2 separate regions of the Homo sapiens genome follow, and region 1 is linked to region 2. Evidence: fine-mapped expression QTL. Tissue or cell type: whole blood. Region 2 holds a variant in brackets; the other region holds the start of a gene. All regions are shown on one strand. Distances are from middle to middle.

What was found. PIP is the estimated chance that this variant, and not a neighbour inherited with it, causes the effect.
Region 1: it holds the start of IRAG1, and the variant in region 2 is fine-mapped to the expression of IRAG1 in whole blood (TOPMed, PIP above 0.99).

What each region holds. Positions count from the first base shown.
Region 1 is chr11:10,692,606-10,695,290 of GRCh38, reverse strand. It overlaps IRAG1 (inositol 1,4,5-triphosphate receptor associated 1), which reads left to right and starts at 1,536. Exons shown (of 21, transcript NM_130385.4): 1 at 1,536-1,755. The coding sequence starts at 1,689.
Region 2 is chr11:10,508,761-10,511,445 of GRCh38, reverse strand. It overlaps the pseudogene MTRNR2L8. Among named protein-coding and RNA genes, the nearest start is that of MIR4485, 1.8 kb to the right of the region's middle. RefSeq lists an enhancer at 1-467 and a silencer at 2,030-2,324. The variant CTAAG/G (reference allele first, on the strand shown) is at 1,441.

The DNA of each region.
Region 1 (2,685 bases), 180 kb before region 2:
TAATGTGGGATCCTTGGACCAAGTACATGAGAATCACCCAAGGGCCTTCACTAAAATGCAGATTTCTGGGTCTATGTCAGATCCATAGAATTAGAATTTCTGAAAGAGGAACCCAAGGAGCTTCACACTTGGGGGTTCTAATGCACATTGAAGTTGGAGAAACAGCACTGAAGAGTTTGGTCAGTTCCTTCTAGACCATATACTTGCAATTCTAGTAGTTACCACCATGTGGCTTTGTGGGGGACGGGGGTTGTGGGGGGAGCCTGTACCTCCATGTGGACAGGTGTGGACACTTGAGAGAAAGCATGGCTAGTACCCAAGACAGCCTCCTCTGGTTTCATTTACAAAAAACAATTATTGATGAGGGTAGCGGACTTCATGCGCTGCACCCCTGTTAGTGATCTCTCTTACAACAACCACACAGAAGAGACAGGACTTCCTGAGAACCACATGCCTGAGGAAGGTGCTGGGATGGAGGCTCAGTGGGCCAGGCTCAGTGGAGAGCATCTGCCACTGCTGCACAACTGATCTGTGGCCAGGAGCTGAGCATAAGGACTGTGTTTGCCAGGAGAGCTTGAGGCCATAGGCCTGGGAGCTCCAATCCCTAGTGCTCTCTACCATGACTACTGAATGTTTTCTGGGTGGCTAATGATGGCCAAAAGCTAGGGTTCCCGGATTTATCAAACAAAAATAGAGGATGACTAATTAAATTTGAATTTCAGATAAATAACAGTCTTTAATACAAGTATGTCCTGTGTTTATCTGAAATCCAAATTTAAATGGGTGTCCTGTAATTTATCTAGCAACTTTACCTAGGGTTTCTCTGTGCTGCTCTAACCACAGAAGGGGCTGAAGTCCCCATGTGGCTTGCCCCCAGCTTGGAGCTCCATGATCCTGGCCTTGGGTAGGCCCTATACCCAAGGCAGGTGAAGAGTGTGTATGGACAGGGTATGGATTTCCTGGGCAGGGGCAGGAAGCTCATTCATACTGATCTAGCTCTTATGAGATGCTGGCAGTGTGTTAAACACTTGACTAACATCTCATTTAATCCCCTGACTACCTAGTGAGTCGGGCATTATCATTATTATTTCCACTTTAGAGATGAGGAGACTGAGGCTCCACGATGTTAAGACCACAGGCTGTTTAATGGAGGAGCAAGGTTGACATCCCTGGGGCTGGTGCCAAGTCTGGGAGTAGCTGAATCTCCCAGGCCATTCTCTCTGGCAATCCCAAGAGTTTAACGCAGTGGGAGCAGCCCCTGCCCCCGAATCCCCAGGACAGGAACCATTCCCAGTTTCTCTTGGCGCTGGCCCAGGGTCTTCTCCAGGCTCACATGCTTGCTGGAGGCTCCAGGCGGGTGGGGAGATCTGCAGGGTCCCTTTGTTCCCGTCCGGCCAGGACAGTGTCCAGTGGCACGAGTTGCCATGGGGACTGCCATCTGCTGTGTGGATACCCATCGGAGGGGCCCAGGGTGAGCGACTGCCCCAAAGGCCCAGCCTGCCCTGAGCCCTGAGGCCAGCTGGTCGGCTTTCCCTGCCATTATCCCCCGAGCCAGGCCGGAGTGGGGCTCCCAGAGGAGCTCTCGGCTCTAAGTCCCAGCCCCTCTCAGAGGAGGCGTGCGGCCGAGGTTCTGCAGCCAGAGGCTTCTCGGCTCTGAGCTCCGGAGCCAGATGTAACATTGACCTTAAATGGTAAAAGCTCCCCAGAGTGAAGAGAGGCTGGCCAGAGGAGGAAAGGAGAATAACTCAGTTTTAGGTAAGCCTCCCCTATATCCTAGAATAACCTGCCTCTTCGGCTGGGAAGCGGAGGGAACCTTCTCTTCCTTAAAGGTACAGGGTGCTGGGATGGGGGTGCTAAACTTTAACTTTCCAGGGGAGCTGGCTTTGTTGGGTGGCATTTCAGCTGAGTATCTTTATTGTTGCTGTCTTAAGTTTTAAATCAGAAGTGAATCTTGCCAGTCCTAACTTAACTAGATTGTGCTCCTTTTGCTTGCCGTTGGAAAGTGTGCACAGCTCAGGGTGAAAATGTGGGTCCTGACAGGCGATTGCAACCCCTAGCTTTCCTGTGGGCCCCTTTGTGGCAACAGTGGGGTCTTCAGCTTTGGCAAGTCTGCTAAGCAGAGCTTTCTCCCCTCTGTGCTTCCTGTGTCTCTCTCTCTGTCCCCCTACGCCCCTCTGCCTTGAACCTGGGCTGGCATGACCTGTCTAGATCCTTAAGCCTGCCTCTATTTCTGTCTCTGCCCTTCCCATCCTGTGTTCTTGTCACAGTCCCTGTTTTTATCTCTGTCCCTGTCTCCTCTTTTGTCTCCAGCTTCCCCTGGCCTGTGCCCTTCCCTGCTCCCTAGAGGGGGTGTATGTGCCCGGCCCGTGCCCGGCCCTGCTCACCTCCAGGGCTCCGAGTTGAAGCGATTCCTAGAGTGAGCACCATTTGAACTGGCTTTTTCCAAAGGAAAAGCCAGTGGAAGCCAGAGGCCAGAGAGAGGCCCAGCTGTCTTGCTCCCTCCTGCCCAGGAAACAGTTGTAAAGGCTATAGAGGCTCTGCAGTTTGAGTAAACAGCAGCCCGGGGTCTGGGACCCCTGGCCAGCACTCCAGCCTCCCAGAGCTCGGCAGCTGCTGAACACTCTTCAGGCTGCTCACTGGGGTGGCACAGGGAAGTAAATCTGGTCTGAGCAGAGTCTTTTGCAG
Region 2 (2,685 bases):
AAGACCATTTTTCCACAGACCAGGGTTGGGGTGGGAATAGTTTCGGGATGAAATTTTTCCACCTCAGATCATCAGGCATTAGTTAGATTCTCATAAGGTGCATGCAACCTAGATCCCTCGTATGCGCAGTTCACAGTAGAGTTCATGCTCCTTGAGAATCTAATACCGCTGCTGATCTGACAGGAGGTGGAGCTCAGGCAATAATACTCACTCGCCCGCGGCTCAACTCCTGCTGTGCGGCCTGGTTCCTAACAGGCAGCAGACCAGTACTGTCCACAGCCCAGGGGTTGTGGACCCCTACCCCAACAGACAGCAAAAATAAAATGCTCAACCCTATTGTAGTTTGTTTACCTTGTAAAATCATTTCCAAAATATAAGAATGTAATTAGAGAAACATCGTAGAATCTTAGTGCTGAAAAGTGCAAGGACATAAGAATGAGTGGCAGTTGGTAGTTAAATTGACTGTATCATCATACTGTGGAGAAATGCACATTTTACTGTCAAAATACATAAAAGCCTTTGCAGAGATAGGTTTTGACACGCTTGCAGCTGTTTATAGTCTTACTCTCTGTCATCTTCTATCTTACTAATTGCAAAAATTTCCAAGGAACTGTTTATCTGGTTAGTATTCCCCTAGTTACACTTGTTCTTTATAATGATCATAGTTCAGGCAGAGTATTTGGGTATATCACCTTCAGTCATGTCTCAAACGCAGGAAATGAAGAATATTGTTTCACCAACACTCAGAAGTAAAGAGAAAGCAAGAGAAAAGTGCTTTCGGCTCTTGTTTAATCCAAGAGGCCGTGAAAAATCACAACCCAGGAGCTGTGATTTGTTTTCACGAGGCAAAGAGCAATGATGTCGATCGGTTTCAGCGGTACAATTTGAAGTAACACATAAAGTGAACTTGAGCCCTTAAGGATAAAGAAGGGATAACTGCCTCAAAAACTGTTGCTTTAGAAACCTAAGCCAGTATACAATTAATTGCCTCTTATTCCAGTTGCAAACACAAAGGAAAGTAGGGATTTGTCCCCCAAAAGGCCAATTAAGTATAGCAATGTAATAAAAGCACAAAGTGCTATAGAAAAGATGTCAGAAAAGCTTGCAGGACACCGCTGCTAGCCCCATACCCCGAGCCAACCAAACCCCAAAGACACCCCATACAGTTTATGTAGCTTACTTCCCCAAAGCAATACACTGAAAATGTTTCGACGGGCTCATATCACCCCATAAACAAATAGGTTTGGTCCTAGCCTTTCTATTAGCTCTTAGTAGGATTACACATGCAAGCATCCCCGCCCCAGTGAGTCACCCTCTAAATCACCACGATCAAAAGGAACAGGTATCAAGCACGCAGCAACGCAGCTCAAAACGCTTAGCCTAGCCACACCTCCACGGGAGACAGCAGTGATAAACCTTTAGCAATAAACCAAAGTTTAA[CTAAG/G]CCATACTAACCCCAGGGTTGGTCAATTTCGTGCCAGCCACCGCGGTCACACGATTAACCCAAGTCAATAGAAACCGGCATAAAGAGTGTTTTAGATCAATTCCCCTCAATAAAGCTAAAATTCATGTGAGTTGTAAAAAACTCCAGTTGATACAAAATAAACTACGAAAGTGGCTTTAATGCATCTGAACACAGAATAACTAAGACCCAAACTGGGATTAGATACCCCACTATGCTTAGCCCTAAACTTCAACAGTTAAATTAACAAAACTGCTCGCCAGAACACTACGAGCCACAGCTTAAAACTCAAAGGACCTGGCGGTGCTTCATATCCCTCTAGAGGAGCCTGTTCTGTAATCGATAAACCCCGATCAACCTCACCACCTCTTGCTCAGCCTATATACCGCCACCTTCAGCAAACCCTGACGAAGGCCGCAAAGTAAGCGCAAGTACCCACGTAAAGACGTTAGGTCAAGGTGTAGCCCATGAGGTGGCAAGAAATGGGCTACATTTTCTACTTCAGAAAACTACGATAACCCTGATGAAATTTAAGGGTCGAAGGTGGATTTAGCAGTAAACTAAGAGTAGAGTGCTTAGTTGAACAGGGCCCTGAAGCGCGTACACACCGCCCGTCACCCTCCTCAAGTATACTTCAAAGGACACTTAACTAAAACCCCTACGCATTTATATAGAGGAGATAAGTCGTAACATGGTAAGTGTACTGGAAAGTGCACTTGGACGAACCAGAGTGTAGCTTAACACAAAGCACCCAACTTACACTTAGGAGATTTCAACTCAACTTGACCGCTCTGAGCCAAACCTAGCCCCAAACCCATTCCACCTTACTACCGAACAGCTTTAACCAAATCATTTACCCAAATAAAGTATAGGCGATAGAAATTGTAAATCGGCGCAATAGATATAGTACCGCAAGGGAAAGATGAAAAATTGCAACCAAGCATAATACAGCAAGGACTAATCCCTGTACCTTCTGCATAATGAATTAACTAGAAATAACTTTGCAAAGAGAACCAAAGCTAAGACCCCCGAAACCAGACGAGCTACCTAAGAACAGCTAAAAGAGCACACCCGTCTATGTAGCAAAATAGTGGGAAGATTCGTAGGTAGAGGCGACAAACCTACCGAGTCTGGTGATAGCTGGTTGTCCAAGACAGAATCTTAGTTCAACTTTAAATTTACCCACAGAACCCTCCAAATCCCCCTGTAAATTTAACTGTTAG